Homo sapiens: one gene and its partners. The protein of the gene in region 6 purifies or fractionates together with the protein of the main gene of each other region. This does not show direct contact. Each region holds a gene or a part of one and is shown on either strand. Other genes may lie near its edges.

Region 1 (3,500 bases), on a different chromosome or scaffold from region 6:
ATATCAGTTATTTACTATATAACTCTGTTCAAGTTAAAGTGAATGAGGGAACGAATCTAGAATAAAAAGTCTCTCTAAAGTATCCGAATACAGGAGATATTAATGTAATATACGGACTTGGGAGTATAGATTTATTTAGAATCAGACCAGAGTTGGCATCTTGACTCAACTATTAATTGTGTAAAGCGGGTATACCATTTTACCTTTCTGGGCCTTAGTATTGCCATCTATAAAATGGAAATTAACAGGGTTATTTGGGGATTACATGGGGCAATTTATTAACATGAGGCTGATATTAACAGGGTTATTTGGGGATTACATGAGGCAATTTTGCAAAACATTTATCATAATGCCTGGCATATATTGAGTGTTTATTATAAATAACTGCTTTACTCTGTTAGGAAAAAATGCATTCCAGTGCTAGATTCAGTACACATTTACCTATGGTAATAAATAGGATCTTGAGCAAGAAATAGAATATTTCCAGTTAGTTTAACTTTTTATAAAGAAATAAAGACCATTTTTAAAATTAAATTTGAAAGCTATATAAGAAAATCAGTTAGATTTAGATAGGCCAGATGTGTTAGAACATAAAAGACATTAAACATTTCCAGCTAATCAGTTCTTTTAGTTTATATGCTGTTCACAATCCTACCAGTTCATAAGTATATAAATGCATTCCTTCTTATGTTTCTGCAAAGGTAACATTCACACACAGTGGAGGTCCCTGGTACAATACAGACACAAGAATTAGGAAACCAATGTTGACAACAGAATTTCCGTATCATAAGGATTATCCAAGTGGATAATCTTAATAGGTAAAATATGAATTTCCTATGGGCCTCTCTGGGAATCCTACCTGCCTGTTAAAAGGAGCTCTGGTTTAAATGAAGCAGAGAACAGTGAAACTGAAGAAGAGCCAATACCATTTATTGTAACATGAATCATCTAAAATTAGTTGCAAAAATTTTAAGAACATTAGAGAAACTTTTCTCCACATATTAATAATTTTGCTTCTAAAATATTTTTCCATTCCTACAAAATCAAACTTTTGATAAGCCAGCCGAAAAAGAAACAGGAGAAGCAGATGTGTCTCCATCCATTATCGGATGATTTTAAAACATACCTTCATATAGATGGCTCTGTTAAGTATATCAAGGATATTAAATCAATACACTGTAAAAAGATGAGTTCTCTGAGTGTTTTGTTTTATTCTTTTGTTTGTTTTGTTTTTGGGAGTAGCAAGTCATTCACTTATTGAGAGAACATTTATTAATATCCTATTTTGGGTCCAAGCATTTGTGAATTCAGGAAACACAAAGATGAATAGACAAGAGCCCTGCCCTCAACAGACTTGCAGTCAGCTGGAGGAGGTATATATGTCCCAGCAACAATAAAGTAGAACATGCACCCATGCATGGGATCACAGGAGGATGCATCCAATCCTGTCCGGCGAAGCCAGGGATGGCTTCACAGAAGAGGTGATGCCTTCATGGGTAATGTAAAAGTAGGAAGAAGAGGTGGGACAAAAGGATGAGAACTCAACAGGCAAAAGGAAACACAGATGAAGCCTAAAATGAGAAGAGGACATTCAAAGAACTGCAAATAGTGTGGAAATGGATAATATAATGAAGTGGGGGGCATAGGGCACGCTGCACATGCGGGCTAGGATAAGATCTCAAGGAGCCTGCTAATGAGCTTGAGCACCTGTAGTTTAGTTGAAATTTTGTTTTTTATAAATTATACACTCTATCTATTTTCTGCGTCTTGATAAAATGATTAGTTACCTCTTCCCGGGTCCACCTTGTTTTCCCCAAGTGACGCTTTCCAGACTTGGGAAGCAGCCCATCATAGTCATGGTCACACATCTCAAAGTCCTCATCATCCTCGTCACTGCTATATATGCTGCAGAAATAAGAATGGGTAGACGTGGGCTGAAACAAGAGGATTTAGACTACTACTGGATTACAAAACTTACACAAAACTCCTCAACAATCTTTTCAAAGGTTATGAAGACAAAACTTTGAAAACTTGCACAACAAGATTGTTTGCTGCATTCTGTTGCTCTAGTATTGTAAACTGGTTCTGCTGTTATGGGTATCCACAGACACGGCCAAGGACCTGGCACCTTCCTATTCCCCTGCATGTCTGAACCTGCTGTTACTATTAGACCAGGGACAAGTTACACATTTGGCCACCTTCCAACCAGTGAAGGTTTAAGTTGAAAACTTAAGGTTAAGGATAAGAAAAGGAACAAGAACCCATGTCCTTTATATAAGTGCACACTCAAAATCTTTGGCATCTGTCACATCGTTTAAATAATATTTCTCAAACATAATAAACAATTCAACTATGCTATTCCAATGGGGTTTTTGTTTTATTAAAAGAAGAAAAAAATCAAGAAGTAGTACAGCGCAAAACAGAATTATAGTGATCCCATAAAGTCTAGAGGATTAGGAGAATCTAAGAGGAAAGGATTTTAAAACCAAAGCAAAGATAAGAACATTGAGTGATCAAGCTTTAATGTTTTGTAAATAAAATTAATACCAAATTGCTCACAACTCCAGGCCTGGTTGATCCAACTTGTGCCCATGTTTACAATACTTAGTTTCTAGAGTAACTAAGTGAATAATTAGGCCACTTGTTAGTCAGAGTCTTACTTACTCTTGTTTTTTCTGTCTCTGATGGAATGGTGTTTGAAATATTATAAAATGTAACCTAATCCAGAAGGGATTTCCCCAGAAAAAAGCCATGGATTTAAAAGAACCCATTACTATTTTCGAAAGCTTTTTCTTTTATTTAGTTAACCTAACCTAGGAAATTTTATGACTTTTGAAGAAGTAACTATATGCTTACTGTTTGTTAATCATAATCATAATGTTTGTTAATCTAATCAACTGATCAGATGACAATAATTTTACAGACACGGTTTATTTTATAGTTTTTCTTATAAAACTTAAAATAGGAAAAATACTATCTTAGAAACTTCACTAAAATTTGTCATTGCAATGTTGGGAAACCCATTAAACTAAGACCAATAAAAACAATGATATAAAGCCATATCATAATGTAAATCATTGTTTTTAAAAAGAAAAGTTATATTCATTACAGGTTTTGTCTTCCCAAACTAACTCACTGGTATGCATATTACCAGCCCCCTACAAGTGAAGCTGAAGTGCTTACCAAAAATCCTGAATTGGGGGTTCTCATAATTTAAAGCTATTATTTTAAGCAACAATCTGATAGTCCAGGTTGAATGGCGACATGATGTAATCCAAATTTAAAATACCACCACCACCAAATAAAATCCCAGGAAATATATATTTATAATCTGTAATAATTCCTTTCATTTAGTGTCTGTGTTTTGAAACAATAGCCTAGTTCTGTTTCCACTGTCAACAGGAGGCACTAAACAACTTCTGAACAAGAACTACAAAAATGTAAAACACGATATGATAAAGCAAAAAAAAAAAAAAAAAAAAAAAGCTATAAAGCCCAGA
Region 2 (3,500 bases), on a different chromosome or scaffold from region 6:
TCCCATTCTAAGATTTGCTAAGGGAAAAAAATATTAGTGTGGTCATCAGAAATATTGGCAGTTACATGAAAATTTGAGGCCTTGTTCTACTTGACAAATTGTTAAAGATATAGCACATGTGCAAAATGGGATAGTAGTTGTTTTTAAGCTTTAAGCCCATTTCTTAAATTTGAAGTTTCTTTGAGACCTCCTGTCCCCCTGCAGAAAACTTTGCTAGTATAGAATGGAAACTCTAATAAAGATTAACCATATCTAATGACTACATTTTGAAAAGGTTCTATACATGTGGGGTCTTGAGGCTCCAGATCCTAAACTGCTTATAAAAATAGTGTGATAAAATGTACAGAACTTGAGAGTATTTAAAGTTGTTAGTTGAGTATTAGTCTACAACAGACTAGACTACAATTTTAGTCCACAACAAGATTTTGGCAGGTTCATAGCAAGATGAGGAAAAAAAAAAAGAAATAGTCTTTTTTTCTTTTTTCTATCGAGATGGAGTCCGGCTCTCTTACCCAGGTTGGAGTACAGTGGCACAATCTTGGCTCACTGCAACCTCTGCCTCCCAAGTTGAAGTGATTCTCCTGCCTCAGTCTCTCAACTAGCTGGGATTACAAGCATGCGCCACCACGCCCGGATAATTTTTTCTATTTTTAGAACCTCCATAGAACAAATGGGTTTTCTACTTGGTCCCCTCTCAGAGCAAATCGTAGCCCAAGTAAAGGCTTCTGCAGCCTCAGGAGAGACAGCCACAGCGGCCTGGGGTACACCTTCAGCTCCAGACCATTACAAGAGGCAGGATGGAAAGCAGCAGCACTTGAAAGAAAGGCCTGTGAAAGCTGGAGAAAACCTCCTTTGAGAACAGAGGACAAGACGGGGCTTTGGGATTTGAAAGTGGTCAAAGAATTATTCAGGAAAAAACTATAGTGAAAAACAATTTGTTGTTAGAACTCCAACATCTAAAAGGAGTTCTAACAAACAGGAAAATGGAATGGAACAAATTATCCAAGAAATAACTGAACATTTCCTAGAAGTTAAGGCATCTTGAGATCGAAAGGACCATTACTAACCAGGAAAAACATTTCATCCCCTTGACTTTTCAGATTACTGAGGATAAAGCGGCCTCAGCACTGACACTGGATGTGCAGTACCTTCAAAACTATGAGGGAAAATGGGCCAGGCGTGGCAGCTGACGTCTGTAATCCCAGCACTTTGGGAGGCTAAACAGGAGGATAGCTCAAGTCCAGGAGTTCAAGACCAGCCTGGGAAATATATCTCTACAAAAATTGTTTTAAAAATAGTAAGGAGGCTGGGTGTGGTGGCTCACGCCTGTAACTCCAACACTTTGGGAGGCCAAGGTGGGCGTATCACTTGAGGTTAGGAGTTTGAGACCAGCCTGGCCAACATGGTGAAACCCTGTCTCTACTAAAAATACAAAAAAATTATCCGGATGTGGTGGCGCATGCCTGTAATCCCAGCTACTCAGGAGGCTGAGGCAGGAGAATCGCTTGAACCTGGGAGGCAGAAAGTTGCAGTGAGCCAAGATTGTGCCACTGCACTCTAGCTTGGGTGACAGAGTAAGACTGTCTCAAAAAAAAAAAAAATAGTAATGAAAGCTGTGAGGGAAAATGTTTTACATCTAGTCTTGTATACATGGCCTTAGTATCAATCAAGTGTGAAAGTAAAATATTTTCAAACATGCAAGGAATCAGTTCATCTTACACTCTTTTGAAGAAGGTACTTTGAAGGAGTACTTCAGCAGCATGAACAAAACCTTGAAAGAAGATGCCAGTGGGGCGGGAAGGCCTGGAGCAGCCAGCCAGTCTTAATTGGAGCAGATGCAACACATTACCCCAAAGCAAGAATACTCCATACTCTTCAAGTTCCTGTGGGCCAGGAATTCAGGAGAGGCTGAGCTGGGTTCTTGTGGCCCAGGGTCTCTGGCCTTACAGTCTAGGTTCCAGCCAGGCTGCAGTCACATGAAGGCTGACAGGCTGGAGAAACTGCTTCCATGGTGGTTGACTCATGTGACTGGCAAATTGGTCCCATCTAGTGGCAGGAGGCCCCAGTTCCTCACCTGATGGACTTGCCCATAGGCTGCTTGAGTGACCTCAGACATTATGACTGGCCACCTCCAGGGCAGGTGATCAAGAGAGATTCAGGCAGCAGCTCTCGTTTTTTGTGACTCAGCCGTGGAGATCATACAGCATCACTCCCACCACACTCTGTTTCTTACCGAGTCACAAAGCCTGGCCCACATTCAAGCAGGGGGACCATTGTAGACATGTTTGAAAGCCACCATAGGAGCCTAGTTTAGGGATACATTTTCTTCATTAACCAGCATGGAGGTTCTGGCTTTAAACCTGTAGAGAGGGAAGTAACCCCAGCACACAGCTAAGCTCTGCAGGAGCGGCGCTCATGGTCAGAATCACGTGCTGCTTTTTCAGATCAACCTAAAGACTAGACGGTTGTGATTACACCTGAATGCCAATTTACTTTGACAGCATTTATAAAAACAATCATTGACAGAAGAGGAACTCATACCTATCAACAATTTAGAATCCCCCTCATCAGAGTCTTTAATATAACACCAATTGAAACATTAAAAAAAGGTTACTACTTATCCTTTTTCCTGGCTTTCCTAGCTCATGCTATAACAAAACGGAAGATGATTTGGATGTTTTAAAATAGTAGTGGTTAAATTCAGTGAAAGAAAGCTGGGTCAGGGTTTCTTTCAGCTTGAGGGTGATCATTAACCCTAAAAACTTTTTTCTCTCCTTACAGGTGGGTGGAATTAAAGACAAAGTGCTGGCGGCACACAGAGCGGGACTGAAGCAAGTCATTATTCCTCGGAGAAATGAAAAAGACCTTGAGGGAATCCCAGGCAACGTACGACAGGATTTAAGTTTTGTCACAGCAAGCTGCCTGGATGAGGTTCTTAATGCAGCTTTTGATGGTGGCTTTACTGTCAAGACCAGACCTGGTCTGTTAAATAGCAAACTGTAGGTCCAAATCTCAATTTTTTAGAATTTTAAGTTATGAAGTGCTCAAAGGTACTGACACAGTTGATTTTATTCACACCATTAGGGGTATGCAAGATGTCCCTGTTTTATAAACATAATCACAACAGTAATAAACCTCAAGTAGTGGCTAGTGTTTAGTATAGAAATATAAGATGTTGATTTAGTAAACTGATAAAAATCGAATTCTTGTCTTTTTAGTGGGATCCTTACTGTCCCTGGAAAGATATAGCATAGTGGTTCTCAGCACAGTCTCCAGAACAGAAGCATCTGTAGTACCTGGTAACTTGTTAGAAATGTACATTCTCAGGCTCCACAGCAGGCCGCCTGAATCAAATCCTGGGAGGTGGGGACAGAAATCTGTGTTTTAAGAAGCCTTCCAGGTAATTCTGCTGCACACTCAAGTTCAGGAACCACCGGTATAGACCATTACCTTAGTGGATTTACCTGTAGAGTTTATTGGATCCTGAAACCAATCAATTA
Region 3 (3,500 bases), on a different chromosome or scaffold from region 6:
TCACAGTGACAGACACACACCATCCCGGCCAGTTGTCACATGCTCACACACCCACACCACTCAGCCACACACCCCATCATGCCCCATAGGCTCTGTGGCACCCCCATTCGGCTCACACTAGCAGGAGGTACGTGCATGAGCCCCTTCCCAAGGCCCCACACGCCCGCCCACATGCTCCCACTCACCGATCTGGGCTGCGGCCTCCCTGCAGGGCAAGCTTCGGATGTCACAGAGGCGTCCGCTCCATCCAGGGGGACAAAGGCAATAGGCCCCAGTCTGGACGCAGCGACCCCCGTTTTGACAAGGCTGGCGGCTGCACCAATCCACCAGCGTCTGGAGGGGAAGCACTCAGAGTCAGTACTGTGGGGTGGGGGGTAGTCTGGGAGAAACTGTGCCCCGACTTGGCTTCTCCCTCCTAGGATCCCAGGCAGGCTCCTCCCCCAGGTCCCCAGTAACTCCACCCACCTGGCACTGCGGGCCCGTGAAGCTCTCGAGGCAGGTGCAGCGGAAGCCAGGGTGGGCGGCGCTGCAGACGCCCCCGTGTAGGCAGGGCCGCGAGAGGCAGGGGTCTGCCTCATGTTGGCAGTGGGCTCCTGTGTAGCCGGGACGGCACAGGCAGCTGAACGAGTTCACGCCGTCCACACAGGTCCCGCCATTGAAGCAGGAGCTGGAGCGGAAGGAGTGGGAGGGAGGATCAGGCTCCGCCCCCTCACAGGCCCTGCCCTCCTTCCTGAGTCCCGCTGTTAGCGCTGGGGACGTCCCACTCCCTGACCCTTATCTCGGCAAGAAGCTGCAGCCCCAGCAGAAGCCAATCAGGTCCCTTAGCTCCAATTCACCAGGGACTTCAGCCCTAAGGTGAGAGCCACCTGGAAGCCATGCCCTCTCAGGCACCAGAGACTCCAAGGTGAGCTCCAAACAGACGCCCTGCTCCTTCCCTGGCCCTGCCCCATCAGTCATCAGAGTCCGCAGTGGGTACCAAGCTGAGGACTCCCCCAAGTCGTTGCTGTCCCCACTTCGTCCCAGGTCCCAGGCCCCATCCCAAGCCAGAGTCCCTGCTCTCCAAGCAGAGGCCCCGCCCACCTGGGGCTGCAGTCGGGCAGGTCCTGTTCGCAGTGGAAGCCTCCGTAGCCTGGCGGGCAGGTGCAGGTGAAGGAGGCCACGTGGTCGGTACAGGTGCCCGGGCCGCAGGGGTTGCTCAGGCACTCATCCACATCGCGGGCGCATCGTGGGCCGGCGAAACCAGGGAGGCAGGAGCAGGAAAAGGAGCCCACGCCGTCTTGGCACGAGCCACCGTTCAGGCATGGGTCTGCGGACAGGAGGAAGGCGGTCTGGTCACCTACCTTGCCCCCATTAGCCCAGTCTGACTGGGATATGCCTTGGATTGAGAAGAATTCAGGAGGAAACCAGGTTCAACTGGGATGGGGTGCATTTGGTCAGAGGAATCTAAATCCATCCCCTTCTGTGGCCTCGTCCCCTCCTTTATCTGGAAACCTCACCTATGTGGCAAGGGCAGGATGTTGGGAAAACCAAAAGGTCCCTTTAAGCTGCCAAGCAAACGCTGCTAATTGTGCCTGATCTAATTCCTGTGCTTGGAACAGGACAAGGACAGTGGCCATTAGCCACATGTGGCTACTGAGTCCTTGAAATTGTGACTAAATGGAGATGTGCTATAAATGTAAAATACATACTGGGTTTCAGATTTTGAAGACTTGGTATGAAAAAAAAAATAGGCTGGGCGTGGTGGCACACACTTGTAATCCCAGCACTTTGGGAGGCCGAGGTGGGCAGATCACTTGAGCTCAGGAGTTCGAGACCAACCTGGGCAACATGGCAAGACCCCATTTCTATAAAAAATACAAAAATTAGCTGGGCATGATGGTGCACACCTGTAGTCCCAGCTAGTGGGGAGGCTGAGACGGGAGGATCACTTGAGCCTGGGAGGTCAAGGCTGCAGTGAGTCATGATCGCACCACTGCACTCCAGTCTGGGCGACAGAGTGAGAACTTGTCTCAAAAAAAAAAAAGGAAACAATGTAAAATATCTCATTAACAATTTTATACTGGTTACATGTTGAAATGATATGTTAATATATTGGGTTAAATAGATTATATACATTTATTTATTTATTTATTTATTTACTTTTATTTTTATTTTTATTTTTTTTGAGATGGGGTTTCGCTCTTGTTGCCCAGGCTGGAGTGCAATGGCACGATCTCAGCTCACCACAACCTCCGCCTCCCGGGTTCAAGTGATTCTCCTACCTCAGCCTCCTGAGTAGCTGAGATTACAGGCATGTGCCACCACGCCCAGCTAATTTTGTGTTTTTAGTAGAGACGGGGCTTCTCCATGTTGGTCAGGCTGGTCTCAAACTTCTGACCTCAGGTGATCCACCTGCCTCAGCCTCCCAAAGTGCTGGGATTACCGGTGTGAGCCACTGCGCCCAGCCGATTATATACATTCAATAAATTAAATTTAAATATATTAAATTTGGTCAGGCACAGTGGCAGCAGTCTGAGAGTCCAAGGCAGGAGGATGGCTTGAGGCCAGGAGTTTGAGACCAGCCTAGACAACGCAGTGAGACCCCATCTCTACAGAATTAAAATAAAAATATTAGCTAGGCATGTAGTGAGTGCCTGTAATCCTAGCTACTCAGGAGGTTAAGACAGGAGGAATGCCTCAGCCCAGGAGTTCGAGACTGCACTGAGCCAAGATCGCACCACTGCACTCCAGCCTGGGCGACAGAGCCTCACTCTGAATACATAATAAATAAATAAATATAAAATATTAAATTTAATATCTCCCATTTCTGTTTATTTTTTAATGTGGCTACTAGAAAATTTAAAATTGCATATGTGGCTTGTGTTATTTATCTGTTTGGCAGCACCCCTTTTTGTTTGTTTGTTTGTTTGTTTGTTCGTTTTTGAGACGGAGTTATGCCTTGTTGCCCAGGCTGCAGTACAATGACACAATCTCAGCTCACCGTAATCTCCACCTCCAAGGTTCAAGTGATTCTCCTGCCTCAGCCTCCCAAGTAGCTGGGATTACAGGCATGCGCCACCATGCCCTGCTAATTTTGTATTTTTAGTAGAGATGGGGTTTCTCCATGTTGGCCAGGCTGGTCTCAAACTCCTGACCTCAGGTGATCCGCCCACCTTGGCCTCCCAAAGTGCTGAGATTACAGGTGTGAGCCACCTCGCCCGGCCTCTGGGGGGCCTTTTATCTCATACTTTGCACATGATATTAACTCGATTGCTCTCAAAGACAGTGCACTTAGGTCGGGTGTGGTTGCTCACGCCTGTAATCCCAGCACTTTGGGAGGTGGAGACAGGTAGATTGCTTGAGCCCAGGAATTGGAGACCACCGTGGGCAACATGGCGAAACTCCGTCTCTACAAAAAACACAAAATATTAGCTGGGCGCTGTGGTGTGCGCCTATAGTCGCAGCCACTGGGGAGGCTGAGGTGCTTGAGCCCAGAAGGCAGAGGTTGCAGTGAGCGATGA
Region 4 (3,728 bases), on a different chromosome or scaffold from region 6:
CCAGCACACACTTAATAAGGGTTAGCTACTATCATGAGACCTGAGAGAGGAGGGCTCACCATCCACACGGAGCTAAGGAAGACTCACACCCCAGTAAGCTGGCTCCAGAACCCAAGGGCTTACCTGTGCTCTGTGATTCCCCAACTAGGGATTTAGTTGTAGCCACGGACCTGGTAGGCAACAGGGAGGGGATTTTAATCTGCTCCTTGCATCAGAAGGTCCAATAGGCAGGGTTAGTATAATGGGAGATGCCCTGGTAGGGCTGGCAAGGAGAAGAAGCCACATGTATTTTGGTCTGATGAAAAGCAGCAGTGATCTGTCACTGACCAAAATGGTCCCCCAACTATGCATTACGGAGCAGCAACCCACATACAGAACTCGAGAAGCCACGGCCTGGAGACTGTACCTGGACACCAAAGACTGGAGAGAGGAGCTGGTGGGGAAACCCCAGAGTTCCCAGGGTGCCACTCCCCAGCTCCACCAGAGAACTTTGGGAATGAGCTGCTGCCCCTGAGTGCCCCTCTCCAGGGCCTCAGTGAGGGTCTCTACCCTCCAGGGAGGAACAAAACCTTGCCAGCTGGGGTCCTGCGAGAGGGGGCAGTTCAATTCCTCCACAGGGGACTCTGCAACTCCAATCTTTCGAGTGAAGCATCTGCGAGGCCCTCAGGGACCCAGGATGAACTGCATAGCAGCAGAAGGAAGACAGGCCAGACCAGGCGGGAGGGAGCCCGGAAACATCTGGTTTGTAGTTTCAGACTCTACCCGTTCACAGTTCACACAGTCTCACCGGGAAACTCACACCTTGCCCTGTACCAAGTTTTTAAGGCAGTTAAGCTCTGCCCATCCGAGACTTCATTTTTCTTGAGTAGAAAATCACTGAAATCATCAGATCCATGGCACCCACCTTCACTTTCTCCTAACAGCTGGAACCGTCAGGCTGGCTTCAGGGCCTGGTCTTCGCACTTGATATCACTATCCCTCACCTGCTCAGACAGCCAGAGCAGGCGGGTGAGTTCCTCCCAACAACCTCCACTGCATTCTCTCAGCTCCCACCGCAGGGCAGCCCACGTGCCTGAGTGAACATGTGTGCGTGTGCACACACGCAAGTATGCACAGACATACACTAAACACGAACATACAGTGCACATGAACGCTGCTCCCAGCTAGGGCCCTCTGGTCAGACTGCTGCCTGGGTTAGAATTCTTGTCCCCACCCCCACTTACTATAGTTCTGTGATCCTGGACAAGTAACTGAATCTCTCCGTGCCACAGTTTCTTCTTGTAGAAAACGGGAAAGTTCACAGTACTTACCTCCTTAGAGTCATTGTGAAGGTCAGTTTGAGGCATCACAAATTTAAGGCACCCAGACATAAGGGTCAACAGGGTTAGCTATCACTGTCCAGTTTGGTGGGAGGAACTGAATGCATGTAGGCACATGGACCCAGTCTACACTCAGGCACAAAAGGAGCTACATTAGTTACATTCAGGCATACCCCAGAGCACTACAATTCTCTGAGACATTGTCTGGAAATCTAGAAATCATCTCCTTGCCCTTTAAGGTATTTTAACCCTCGCATTCCTCTGCTTTTCCAAGAATGTGAATCTTGCCAAGCTGTCCGTGAGAGACACGGGCTCCCCTCGAGGGAGACTTGCAAATGCTCCATAAACAGCCACAGTGTGGGGCTCTGCCATGAGGAAGTCACAGCAGACACGCTAGACAGCATAGTCCTGGATGCAACCTGGAGGAAGGGAGGCCCATGGTGGAGCACTCACTCCGTGCCTGTCTGCCCGGTGAGACCTCAAGTTCCTTGCAGACAAAGGCCATGGGTTGTTGGCTCTTGTGTTCCCGGTGGCCTTTCCAGAGCTGAACAGAGGACAGATGCACAGACGGGGGGGCTCTGGTGGTCAAGGCAGCAGTCCCCTTGGATACTAAAGTCTGAGCCAGGCCCCTCAGGCCCGGCATGGGCAGTGCGAGGCCCATAGTGGTGGGAAGCCAGTTGGCCAGCTGGGGTGAGAAGGCCGCGAAGCCATGGGCAGACAGGAAGTGGAGGTGAATGTCTCTGCCTCCTGTAGGCCTCAGCAGGGACAGCACAGACCCTCTGGCTGGGGCAGCGCAGACCCTCTAGCTGGGGCAGAACAAGGCTGGTGCTTCCTTCTAGTCCTTGAGACTTTGTAGCTCTAACTCAAGCAGAACCCTGGGGTTTTGGGATTCTGTGTGGTGACTGCTGAGGAAGGTTTATGGATTTGACAGGGTGCATGTCACAGAGAGACAGTTCTCAGTCAGCACTTCCTGTCCCCTGCAGAGGCTCATAGGGGACAGCCCCTGCCAAGGAGACCCTGGAGGGGCTCTGAGGATAGCAATCAGAGGTTGGGCTGGCTGGACTGAGCCCAGGCCTGTTGCCCACCAAGTCTCCATAGGTTCTAGTCTGACCCCTCTCTCCACCCCTGGGCTATGCAGGCCAGCCCGTGCAGACCACCCCCGACGCGTCCACTTGCAACACCCGCCTCACTGTGCCAACACTCCATCCACACAGGAAAGGACTGAGAACGTGATGCTTAACCCAAAGGAGTGAGTTTCATAGGATGGGTGGCTTTAACAGTTTCACAGCAGGACACTGAGGGAATATTTCCCTATCCCTTCAAATGGACGGTCACTACAGAAACGTGTAGAGCAAGACTTTGTCAAGGGGCTGTTTCCAGGTCTCCCGGTGTCTAAATAGCAGAGCTGGAATGGGAACTGAGAACCGATTCTTTCCACAACCGCCCACTGAGCAGCAAGGCTGCAGCCAGCAAAGAGGTGCGGAGGCAAGCAAGCTCCATGTGGTGGGGACAGCGCATTGCGACCTCCACCACCCCTGCAGTGGGCTGCCAGCTGAGCCACCTGTCTTCCACTGTATCTACTGTACGAACTTCTCCAGCTCTGCTCTGTTTTCTCTTCCTCAGCATCCACCCCGTGACACGTAGTGGTGGCTGATGTCGCCACAGTACCATGAGGTTAACAGGTCCTCCCTCCAGCTTCCCTCATGGTGGCAGCCTAACCTGCATTGCAGCCGTTCACCGGACACCGCACCAGACCCTCAAAACCCATCCAAGACTGTGGGAGGAGTAAACAACCCAGCCCAGTTAAGAGGAGATGCCGAATTTAATGAACCCTATTTGAATTGCAGGGCTGTGATTCCTCTTACCTTTAACGTGAACTCACAGGCGGATTAAAGTGAAATAAAACCTACCATTTGAGTTACATTCTCAGCTGATTGGAAACATGCATTGCCTCCCCATGACCGGGCCGTGAGAAGGGAAGTTATTATCTTTCTTTAGAGTTTGTAAACTCTTTATGGCTGAGGCAGCTTTAATCCTGCTGGGGAAAAAAAAGGATCCGGGAATCAATTGCTCCTATTTACCTTTGTTTTCCAATCACATGCTCCAGTGGGAATAAAACATCCTAAGTGAGGGGATGTGGGGAGCCAGGTGATCCCTGACAGAAGAGTTTGATTATTTTCTTCTCTAGGCATGTGAATTGAAGGAACTTTAGAGTTCTATTTGGCAAGGGGTCTCATTTCACAAAAATGTGCACCCCAGTAAGGATATCAGCACTCCTGGGCCATTACTGGTTCCTCTGCCTTTTCTTTCCAGAGGAAATGCCCTCCATTCCCCAACCATGCCCACTTCTTTAAGGGGTGCTGGCAGCAAAGGGCCCAGCTCCAGGCATTTGGCCAGGAAGGAGTCCGA
Region 5 (3,500 bases), on a different chromosome or scaffold from region 6:
GCAATCAGATAAATGCGAACAAAAACAATGAAATACCATTTCTCACCCATTTATTAGGCTGATAAAAAAATATATAAAGTTTGACAATTACAGATACTGAGTACTGGAAAAGAAACATATGCTCCTGGTACAGTATAAATTGGAATTCCAGATTACCAGGATTGTGTGATGCCCCTAGGAAAGTCATCAGCTTCAGCACTTCCTTACTTCTCTGGATTCATGCTTTTGCCTCATTTTTTGGTCTCTACAGATTTCCTATTGCTTCCTTACTAGCAAAGTGACAACAATAAAGTATAAAATAAGCATGCTTATTTTACATTATATCCACCAGAATTTCTAGATGTCTTGAAATGGAAGTATTTTCATGGTGTCTAATTCAGTATGTACACTGAAACAAAAATTGAGTGAGTTCACTTTCAATTTAATGATATTAAACTCAATATTCACTCAACTTTATATATGCCCTAGATTTATAAATCTAGTAAACCTTTAAACTCACTTCCTATAGGAAATTTATTTTTCTTAAACTGATGTATTTCATAGTTGTTCTCACTAATTGTATTAAATACTATAAAAAATAAAATGGTATTTTACAAGTTAAACTGCATTTATATAAATGTCTTGTAAGTTTATTAAAGGTAAATTAGAAAGTTAAAGCATTTCAAATATTCTCTTACCTGTTCAAGCGCTTGGTTTTTCTCTTGCTCTATTTTCCTCATAGTTTCCTTTTCAGCTTTGAGTGATGATGATGACACAGTTTTAACAGACATAAAATCAACAGTCATCCACTCATCCCTCTGTTAAAAAAAAAGACATAAAATCAACAGTCATCCACTCATCATTTCAATCTGAACTGATTAGAATTTAATAAACACTTGGTAATAAGAGCAGGGACTTTGGAGGCAATCAAACCTGAAACAAGTCCTACATGGCTATATAACTTGAAGCAAGCTTCTAAATCTCTCTATACTTTAGTCTCTCCTCTATAAAATGGTATAAAATCCCTACCTTTCAGGATTGTTTTAAAGAGTAAACAAGATAACAGATCTAAAGCATCCAGCCCAAAGCCTGGCACACAACAAGCAATCAAACTTAGTTCCTGTTCACCTTTCTTCCTTCACCTGTGGCTAACAGTGGACAAATTACATTCTTCCTGAGGCAGATGAACTATAGCCCAAAATTTTTGAACTATTCAACTGTTAAGTATTGTTAAGAAAATTAAGGCATGAGGTGAAGGGAAAAAAAACTGTGATGGAACTCCACTCACTATAGAAGGGTCAGACAGAGATACAGTATAAGGCTTTAGGGACATAAGGGGAAAGTGCCACTTCTTATCAACAATCAAAAGCATGAAAGCCTCTAAGGAACGAGAATAGAGAGGAACACTCACTTTCTCACAGTAGAAGGGGAAGGGGGTTCTAAACATTCAGCAAACAGCAGTACTGCCAAAATTATTCCTAAAGTATATTGTTTTCAAAGTCTAATTGTTCTCCTGAAGAAATTTTAATCATCTTTCATTTTCATATTCATTTATTCTCAAAAGTTGATACTTTTTTCTTTAAAACCAAGTGATAGGCCAGGTGCAGTGGCTCACGTCTCTAATTCTAGCACTTTGGGAGGCTGAGGTGGAAGGATTGCTCAAGCTCAGGAGTTTGAGACCCAGTCTAGGCAACATAGGGAGACCCCAACTCTACACAAAATAAAAAAATTAGCCAGGCGTGGTGGGCACACAACTGTGGTCCCAGCTACCAGGGAGGTCGAGGTGGGAGGATTACTCGAGCTTGGGAGGTCGAGGGTGCAGAGAGCTCTGATTGTGCCACTGCGGCCCAGCCTGGGCAACAGAGTGAGACCCTGTCTCTAAAATGAATGAAAGAGAGAAAGAGAGAGAGAGAGAGAAAGAGAAAGAAAGAAAGGAAGGAAGGAAGGAAGGAAGGAAGGAAGGAAGGAAGGAAGGAAGGAAGGAAGGAAGGGAGGGAGGGAGGGAGGGAGGGAGGGGGAGGGAGGGAGAGAGGGACAGAGAGGGAGGGAGGGATAGAGAGGGAAGGAGGGAGGGAGGGAGGAAGGAAGGAAGGAAGGAAGAAAGCAAGGAAGGAAAATCAAGTGGCTTGCTTACCTTGATAATTTGGGTGTCATCTTTTCCTGACTTTTCATCTTTCACTTTCCAGGCTTTTTCCTTGTCAGGAGTCTGGGATGGAACAGCCTCAACCCACTCATCTTCAGAGCTCTAAGAACATTTAGCATATAAGTGAAATTGTCAAATTTGCATACTTTGATATAAAAATTCTGTGCTGTTAAGTGGTAGAAATTCAACATCGTAGAAAAAAATTCTTACACTGTATTTCCCCTTTACAAAATGGCAATGAAATTTTAAAGAGCTGGGTGTGGTGGCTCACACCTGTAATCTCAGCACTTTGGGAGGCTGAGGCAGGCATATTACTTGAGGTCAGGAGTACAAGACCAGCCTGGCAAACATGGTGAAACACCATCTCTACTAAAAATACAAAAAAGTTAGCCAAGCGTGGTGGCGCATGCCTGTAATCCCAGCTGCTCAGGAGGCTAAGGCAGGAGAATCGCTTGTACCCAGGAGGCAGAGGTTGCAGTGAGCTAAGATCACACCACTGCACTCCAACCTGGGCCACAGAGACTCCGTCTCAAAAAAAAAAATTTTTTTAAAGAAAAAACATATAAACCCACTAGTTTGAGTTAAGCCCACCAAACACAACCAAATTATTTTTATTTTCTCATCCATTTATTATCAAGCCAAGAGAAGGCAAAAAAACAAAAATGGGAACTGCCAAGTAGAGACCTCACTTCAGCACAGAGCTTCAGTGACTACCAACGTCAAGTAGTTACTCACATCTCTGCTTCACTAGAACAGGGGAAACACCACCCAGGTAAACGAATTTGCTGTTTGCCCCTAAGTTTCACATTTTGAGATTTCCCTTGATCTAAAACTGCAGATAACATTATCTTCTTCAACACCCTCCTGAAGCTTTATACCAATTCCCATATTCTCAGCAAATGATGTCTTCTTTTACCTCATCAAGAAAACTAGGGCCACCTTATCCTCCTACCCACCGCCCAAAACATTTATGGCTGTGCCTATCCTTATTTCCAGTTAACTCCTCCTATTTAAGGCAGATCTTGCTCTAAAGATTTTGATAACTCTTTCTGTTCCTCCAGGACCTTGCTCCATCAATTATCTTCTCCTCTCACGGCATTAACCAAAGATCCCTAATGGCCTAGAAACAATTTCAAGCATTTCCCACCCTTTTTTTTTTTTTTTTAAGGAGGGAAGGGGGACCTTCCTTGACCCCGTATATTCCTCCTCTAGCAGGAATTAATCTTCCGGCTTCCATTCTCAGATGAACTTCTTGAAAGAGTAGTCTACATGCACCGCCTTCACACTCTCACTTTCATACATTTTCTCAAAACTCTACAATACATCTACTGTCCCCATTAATCTACTGAAACTTCTCCAAACTCACCAGTGGCTTCCA
Region 6 (4,003 bases):
CTCTGCTAATTTACACCATGGTCTTCCATCTCAGTTCTTCCCCAGGAACATAAGGAATGGTTCCCAAGAAGGAAGGAGTTGAACTAGAAATTTGTCAAGACCTACACAAAGCTGGGGGTAGGGGACAGGCAGACAAGGTGACAGCTGCGCTGCAGGACCCTCCACGCCTTCCCTATGGAGGGGCTATGGGAAGCCAGACACTTTTGGTTTCTGGGCTGAAAATAGAACCTTTTGGGAAGACTGGAACCACGCAGGAGGAAAAGAGCAAGAGGTGCACCTCTCTCCACACACGGGCGCCGAAGGGAGCCCAGAGTGGCCCCCACGTCCAGGGGCCACGGGAAGGAGAGGCAGCCGCAGAGCCTCCGAGCTGGGTGTGCAGGTGAAAGGCAGGCCCTTGAGGTGGGCACCACAGGCTCACTGAGGCAGGTACTCAGCTGGGAAGGCTTGCTTCAGGGTGAACATGAGAAAGACAATCTCCTCGTAATCATTGGCTTCGTACAGACACCCAAACAAGGGGGACCCATCAGGGCCGGTGCCCATGCTCTGGAGGTCTGAGTAGGCACAGCTGCCCTTGGCCAGCAGTACCGGCTCTGACCAGGCCTCAGGGGCTGGAGGTCGCGGGTTGAGGTAGGCACCCAGGTCGGCCCTCTGCCAGGAGTGTGTGGGGTGAGTGTAGAGCAGCCACTGGGCTGGGGAGCCAGGCCCCGAGCGGGGGCTGGGGAAGCTGATGACGCTCCCCTGGCAGCCCTGGGGCGGCGGCTCCACCAGCTTCTTCACCAGCTGAGACTCCTGGAAATCAAGCCCGTCATTGGTGCTCTGGGCCTGGACCCTGGCTCGGAGGTGGCTTCTCGCGTTGAGGGTCACCACCCTCTGCTCCCCAGTCTCGACTTCGGCCACCTGGCACTCCAGGGTGTCCTGGGCCACAAAGTGCCCTCGCGCCCACGTGCGCCCATGGTCATGGCTGAGGAAGCAGAAGGCAGAGGGGATCGGCCTTTGGATGGGGTGAAGTTTCCGGTAGGCGTAGGCGGGCACCACCAGGCTCCGGGCCCTGTCGTGAAGCTGCAAACAATGCCCCGGGCCCACTGCAAAGGTGGACCACTCCCGGTAGGCTGGGCCGATGGCCGCATCAGTGAGGTCTCTGGGGGAGCTCCAGGTCCTCCCGTGGTCAGTGCTGGTGACTTGGCACAGCCGCGTCACATTGGCCCTGGTCTGCAGCTGCTGTTGCTCCGTGACTTGCCCAGGGATGGCAATGAAGAAGAGGAAGAGGGTCCCCGTCTGCGCGTCATACAAGGGGCATGGGTTCATGGACCGGTGGCCATCCAGCCGGGCCTGGGCCACCACCTCCTGAGCTTGCCACTGAGTAGGGAGAGAGAAAGAAGAAGGCAGCCTTGAAACAGCTGGGGATGGTGCCAGGAGCTGCATGAGTGGGAGGGGTGGGCACGGGTGTGTCTCCCGGGTTAGAGTCAAAAGTCATCGAGAAGAACTCTTCACCCAACACTCATATCCTCCTTGCAACGTTTCCCCAGAGCTGCGGGGCCCAGGGTGCCACCTCACCCCTCCAAGGCAGCCACACTCGGCTGAGTGATTCTGTTCCTTCCATTGCCATCAATATGCATTTACAGAACACCCACCTGCCAGACCACAAGATATGAAGATGACTCGTGCATGAGCCATTCCCAACTTCATCCTGGTTCCTCCACTTCCCACCCCAGTCCAGCTCACCATCCTTGAATAGCAAAGCCCTGGCGGAAGGTGCAATAACCTGACCAGTACAAGACAGAATGTGACGGTCACCTCTCACCTTCTACACTCCATATCCTACTCATGTAGCCAAGGAGGAGTCACATTGAGCTTCCAGAATCCCCAAGTCTATGTCACATGTGCTGTCTGTCCCCATTTATTAACAGCTACCCCCATTGGGCAATTCTAAGCACAGACACAGCACCAAAAGTCTAACATCCATGGTCTCATCTAATGCCTCAATCCCCAGGGAACAGGTGTTAGTAGCTCCATTATTACAGTGAGCAAGAGACCGCGACAGGGAGGAGGAGTTGCCTAGGCCACATCTGTGGTCAGTGGCGGAACCAGGACTTGAACCCAGGTCCATCTGCTTCAAATCCCATGCTTTGAACAGCTGTGTAGTAATGACCACAAAGGAATGATAATAATATTAAACTCTTCAAATATGATCAGCCAGCCTTGGGTGCTGTCATCAGGATTAATTATTTAATCTATAAAATGGGACTTTAGGACACAAGCCATCACCCCACCCCAAGTCCCCAAGTTAATTTTACTCAAAGGACACAACCCTCCATTATGCAACACTGAACTATTCCTCCGTGAGGTCATCACGGATGCTGGGCAACTCATTCAATCTTTCATGAAAACAGATGGAGGCCAGCTGGACTAATTCACAGTGAACCCAGAGGTCCAGGGAACCATTAGGGGCACTTTCTCTGCTCTATCTCTCCTCCGGAGTACAGCCATTGAGGGATAAAGTTGTCCCTGTATTTCTTGAGATCCAGGACTGGCCCCTGATCACAGCAGCAAAGGGTGTGGCAGAGCCCTGGGGAGCCAGTGCAGACACCTCCTGCCTCACCTGAACCTGGTGGGTGGGTGCGTCGTAGTCTCCTCTGCGCAGGACAATCAGCTCTGCGTGCTCATCCTTCTTGCTTGCCCGCTGTTCCGCGAAGGCCAGCAGGGACTGCTGCCCAGGCAGGTAGAGCAGGGCAGGGATTCTGTAGGCATGGGCTCCCGACTGGAACACGCTCTCCTTCTGCAGGACAGGAAGGGACGCCATGGGGCTGGGGGGTGGACAGGAAGAGAAGATGTGTCACCTGCAGCCACACCTGAGATGGGCTCAGAGTCATTCACCAAGACAGGTGGTGCTCACCCCCTGGCTGAGTGGACCAAAGTCAGGGCGGCCTGTCCTCTTCCCGCGTGGGGTTCATTCTCCTTTCCTACATCTCAAGACCCTGCTTCTTAATTCTGCCTTTGCCTCGGTGGATATCGGGAGGGGGTATTGCAAAAGCGTGTTTTGGATTCGATTTTTATTCTAAGTTAACAATGCTCCTTACAACAGATTTTCGATAACCTCCAGCTGCTTTTGCCAAACCCAGCCCATCAATCCAGGGGCAAACCTCGGGAGGACAGCAGTGCAGGCCGGGTGGCATTCGGCAGCTGCCCAAATGCCAGAAAGTGACACATGGGAGCTTTTTATAACTCCAGAGCCCTAGAAAGTTGTTTCAAAGAAAAGGAAAAAGAAAAAGCATGGCTTCTAAGGCTCTGCTCCCCAGGCTGCCTGAGGCTGAGGCCCGTCTGCCCCCGCTGCTGCGTGGGCTCCCCCTGAGGCAGCGAGGGGGCGGCGCTGCAGTGGGAAAGGAAGAGACAGGGGCTCCTGACAGCTAACCCAGGCTGGGGGCGTGGGGTGCTCCAGAGGTCTAAGAAAATAACAATTAAAAATAAGTCTTCAGCTAAAAAGGGTAGGGAGGGGACAGAGGTAACTTGGGGACAGTGGGTGACAGTGATTTTCGGGCTAAGCTGCCTAGGTCCCTTTAGGAGGATGCATCCCGCAGCTCTGGGGAGTGTTGGCTGCAGGGCCCTGGCCTGGGGAGGATGGGCCAGTTGTTCCCAGATGAAGAATCTGCCCCAGGTCATACCCAAGAAGGGCTGCTTGATGATTGGTCCACTCAGAGCCTGAAGACCCTCTTCCTGAACTCCTGACCAGGAACAGTGCGGCTCCGGAGCTCCCTCCGGGCGGCTGGGCCTTCCCTGAGACTGCATTACAGCCGCCTCTTTCTCTGCTGCTCCTCCCTTTCCCCCAGAGGCTCTTGCCTGCCGTGGGTCTCCGTGTCAGAGCCGGCGTCCTGGGCACCCCGTCTGAGACACAGCCTTTGCAGAGGGCAAGTGGGCAAGAGGCCAGCAAGAGGGGCAAGGTTTGCCTTTGTGCACCCTTTTGTACTGCTCTCATTTTTCTACCACATGCATGCGTTATCTATTTAAA
Region 7 (3,500 bases), on a different chromosome or scaffold from region 6:
TAAATCTTACCAGCAAAATTCTAAGTCATGATCAGATGCAAATTATTTGTCACAAATGAAAATTAAATAATTACAATGGGGGGTTTAAGAAGAAAGACATATTATAGTAGATTTGAGATAAATGTATAGAAAGTATATTTATATTGAAAACAAGTGTGTTTTTGGACATCTCTGCATAATATAAAAACTAAGAAGGCAGAAAATGACGCTAGTCCAGTGATCAGCAAACTTTTTCTGCGAAGGGCCAGATAATAAATATTTCAGGCTTCGTGGATCTGCTGCAACTACTCACCTCTACTGTTGTAGTGCGAAAGCAGCCAGACATAAGTAAACAAATGAGCACGGCTGTCTTCCAATAACATTTTATTTATGGACACTAAAATTTGAATTTTATATAATTTTCACTTGTCACAAAGTATTACTCTTTTGATTTTCTCCAACCATTTAAAAATGTTAAAACCATCCTCAGCTAGTGGATCACTAAAAACATAAAGATTTATCCCACAAGCCAGTGTGCTGGCCCTTGCCCTAGACTATTACAGTTCAATAAAATAAATCCTTCTGCATTCAACCTCAACTATTGTTCATCATTAATACGTGTTTTAAGCCACTCTACAGAAAACAGAGATTACTGTCATCTATAATGCAGTTTCCTAATAAAAGTAATTCCTGCCTCTCAGAGCCATTGAGAACATCAAATGGGAATCTTCACCAACGCCTTACCAAAAAGCTTAAGATACTATCTGTAAATAGCTATTATCCTCACTGCTCTAGATACTTCCTTAAGATATGATGGCCTGTATATGACAGCCAGAAGTGATGCGAATGCTCTTCAGGTGTCTTCATTAGATAATACAACAACTCAATGCCACCATCTTGCAACCACAGGATTCTCTAAGTTTCCTCTCATCCATATTATCTACCCTCCTTGAAGTCTCATCAATTGCTGATCAAAGAGGAATTTTCCAAAATTAGAATATTTGCATAGATGATGGAAAAAGAGTACTCTGGGGGATCCCTCAACAACCCACAGAACACAGGATAAGCTTGGCTTCACTGTTACATCCTGAAAAGCCAAACCCAAGTCATTAATTTTATCTGATACACGGTCTGGTCTGCTCCAAAATCTCATAGGATCAAACTGCAGAAATGATCACTACAAAGAGTTTGTCCCATCACATACTTCTCTTTTATCATAATAGTATATTAATATCTGCCTGAGCTGCAATGTAAATTGTCTCTGAAAATATAAGGGCTATCAATAAACAAACAGTGCATTCAAAGAGATCCATGAATTTATGTAACAATCAAGAGTCAAGTCCTTTGTTTTTAAAAAGTTCTATTGACATGGAATTCAATATTAGCTTAAAGCCAGATACTGTCTAATTGCTTACTACATCACTTTTTGAGGAACATTAATGCAAGTATTTCTAGTCCTAATTTTGCAATATCCCAAAGTATCAATGATATCAAGTAGGGCTCAAGAATCTACAAACATACTTTTAAAGTTTTTAATTAAAAAATGTATTCTGGATATGACACCAAAAGCTCATATCCCAAAAATCATTGCAAAGACTAATGTCAAGAAACTTTCTCCCTATGTTTTCTTCTAGGCATTTTACGGTTTTGGGTACTGCATTTGGGTCTTTAAGCCATTTTGGATTAAGTTTTGTACATAGTGTGAGGTAACGGTTCAGTTTCACTCTTTTGCACATGGATATGCAGTTTCTCCAATACCATTTATCGAAAAGACTATCCTTTCCACATTTCTATTCTTGGAACCTGATCAAATGTGATTTTTTTTCTAAAAAAAAATTTGCTTTCTAATTTGTCACATTGTTCTATGTGTCTGAAAAAAAAAAATGTATTCTGGCCAGCATGTCATAAATACGAGAGTAATAAATGATAAAAGAAAATGCTGCTCATACAAAACTAGTATTATGTCTATATGTATGAAAAGCATGGACATTTTTACATAAATGTACAACTTTCCATTTATAAGTTGATGGGGCCTATGTGACTTATCAAATTGTTAATACAAAATAATAACAAAAGTGTTATCTATATTTCCTTCAGTTCTTCCTTATCAAAATTATATACAATGAACTCATAGTCTAGTGAAATACATGGCAAGGTCCCAGCTGTCTTTTCCCTTATATCACACAGGATAGTTAGAAAAATCCAGATCAGACTGGAATAATAAGCAAAATCATATTTTTCCTAATACTGTTCTTCACTGGCTCTCAAACTCTAGCCTTTTTCTGAACTGCATCTTCCCATCTTTGCATAGCTCCCTTATTACATCAAGATCCATCTCCAGCACCCTGGTTTGCATCTCAGGCCCTGGTTCCAGCCCCACAATACTTTCCCAACCAGATCTGAACTGAGAAAAAGACATCACTACTCACATCCCCAGTTCCTGTTTTGCCTTTTTTCAAAACCAAGTGATTCTTTCCCCTCTTCATGTTTCAACTCAGGAGCTCAGTTATTAAACACATCCCCAAATATCCTACAACCCACAGGTAGATTTGTTTTTCAGTAAGACCCCAGAAGTAACATATGCTTCTAAGTCAACAGCACATGCTATAGGCAAAATGCAATCATCTTTCATACTACTAAGAAATTTCCCTAATATTTAAGTTATCTAATATAAATTCTTTGAAAACCCTAAATTAGGGCAAGTGGCTACTACCTATAAAAGATAAGAACTTAAAATGAATATGTGAGTTTAAAAAGTAAACAGATATTAAGATGTGGAGGCAAAGGGATAGTCTGTCCACTAACACTCCCCACCAAAGGAGTCAGCAGTCTTCTCAAAAAGCTCCCAATCTGACCTCCAAGCAGAGCTACTTCCTCTGTGCTTTTAATGCAGCAAGCATGTGCAAACCTCCTTCACAGGTGTTATGTACTGGACTGTCGTTATTGACAAAGATAGTCTCATTAACATCTATATCCCAAGAATAAAGTTTATACTCAATCACTGAAGAGGAAGGGCAAGGGAATTATTCAGACTTCTTTTCGTGGAAAGGGACTCAAGAAAATACTTAAAAGCACCCTTCAAATTCAGGATTAAAGGAAAGACGTTAAAAAGAAGGAAGTTCTGGAACCTGAAAAACTAAGAGTTTTTACCTCACCTTATCATAGGTAGCTGACGTAAGGTCATCATAGTCAGAAAGCCAGGGGTGGGCCTCAGCATCCCGTTTTGCCATCTCCTCCAACTCTGCCTGCAACTTGTCCCAGAAATCGACATCAGACTGTAAGGAAGGGAAAGCAGATAGAAAAAGGAGATCCATCATGACCACCCCACCCCACACTCAGCTCTGCTGGGATTCTCTAAGGCAGCAGTTCTTGAATTTCAATATGTTTAAGAATCATCTGAATAAGTTTTTTAAAATGCAAATGGCCAGATGCTATCCCCAGATACTGATTTAGTAGTCTGGGGTGATGGCCAGAAATGTAATGTAGTGCAGTGCAGTGCAGTGCAGTGCAGTGCAGTGCAG

What was found.
Region 1: the proteins of NEU2 (region 6) and MYB purify together in Homo sapiens (co-immunoprecipitation; one large-scale study listed by IntAct). This does not show direct contact.
Region 2: the proteins of NEU2 (region 6) and LONP2 purify together in Homo sapiens (affinity purification with mass spectrometry; one large-scale study listed by BioGRID and IntAct). This does not show direct contact.
Region 3: the proteins of NEU2 (region 6) and NOTCH3 purify together in Homo sapiens (affinity purification with mass spectrometry; 3 studies listed by BioGRID and IntAct, with this or other methods). This does not show direct contact.
Region 4: the proteins of NEU2 (region 6) and TIFAB purify together in Homo sapiens (tandem affinity purification; one large-scale study listed by IntAct). This does not show direct contact.
Region 5: the proteins of NEU2 (region 6) and CWF19L2 purify together in Homo sapiens (affinity purification with mass spectrometry; 3 studies listed by BioGRID and IntAct, with this or other methods). This does not show direct contact.
Region 7: the proteins of NEU2 (region 6) and PEX5 purify together in Homo sapiens (affinity purification with mass spectrometry; 3 studies listed by BioGRID and IntAct, with this or other methods). This does not show direct contact.

What each region holds. Positions count from the first base shown.
Region 1 is NC_000006.12:135,184,308-135,187,807, reverse strand, and holds part of MYB (transcriptional activator Myb), read right to left. Parts: intron 1,906-3,500; coding exon 1,788-1,905; intron 1-1,787. UniProt on the Homo sapiens protein: Transcriptional activator; DNA-binding protein that specifically recognize the sequence 5'-YAAC[GT]G-3'. Plays an important role in the control of proliferation and differentiation of hematopoietic progenitor cells.
Region 2 is NC_000016.10:48,348,800-48,352,299, forward strand, and holds part of LONP2 (lon protease homolog 2, peroxisomal), read left to right. Parts: intron 1-2,781; coding exon 2,782-3,003; 3' UTR 3,004-3,500. UniProt on the Homo sapiens protein: ATP-dependent serine protease that mediates the selective degradation of misfolded and unassembled polypeptides in the peroxisomal matrix.
Region 3 is NC_000019.10:15,180,496-15,183,995, forward strand, and holds part of NOTCH3 (neurogenic locus notch homolog protein 3 precursor), read right to left. Parts: intron 1,307-3,500; coding exon 1,081-1,306; intron 668-1,080; coding exon 466-667; intron 334-465; coding exon 186-333; intron 1-185. UniProt on the Homo sapiens protein: Functions as a receptor for membrane-bound ligands Jagged1, Jagged2 and Delta1 to regulate cell-fate determination.
Region 4 is NC_000005.10:135,443,726-135,447,453, reverse strand, and holds the end of TIFAB (TRAF-interacting protein with FHA domain-containing protein B), read left to right. Parts: 3' UTR 1-345; coding exon of another isoform or gene 346-1,080; 3' UTR 1,081-3,228; downstream 3,229-3,728. Other genes in the region: DCANP1 (dendritic cell nuclear protein 1), read left to right, coding at 346-1,080. UniProt on the Homo sapiens protein: Inhibits TIFA-mediated TRAF6 activation possibly by inducing a conformational change in TIFA.
Region 5 is NC_000011.10:107,440,826-107,444,325, forward strand, and holds part of CWF19L2 (CWF19-like protein 2), read right to left. Parts: intron 2,225-3,500; coding exon 2,114-2,224; intron 798-2,113; coding exon 678-797; intron 1-677.
Region 6 is NC_000002.12:233,031,469-233,035,471, reverse strand, and holds NEU2 (sialidase-2), read right to left. Parts: upstream 2,801-4,003; coding exon 2,600-2,800; intron 1,357-2,599; coding exon 415-1,356; downstream 1-414. UniProt on the Homo sapiens protein: Exo-alpha-sialidase that catalyzes the hydrolytic cleavage of the terminal sialic acid (N-acetylneuraminic acid, Neu5Ac) of a glycan moiety in the catabolism of glycolipids, glycoproteins and oligosacharides.
Region 7 is NC_000012.12:7,203,186-7,206,685, reverse strand, and holds part of PEX5 (peroxisomal biogenesis factor 5), read right to left. Parts: intron 3,255-3,500; coding exon 3,135-3,254; intron 1-3,134.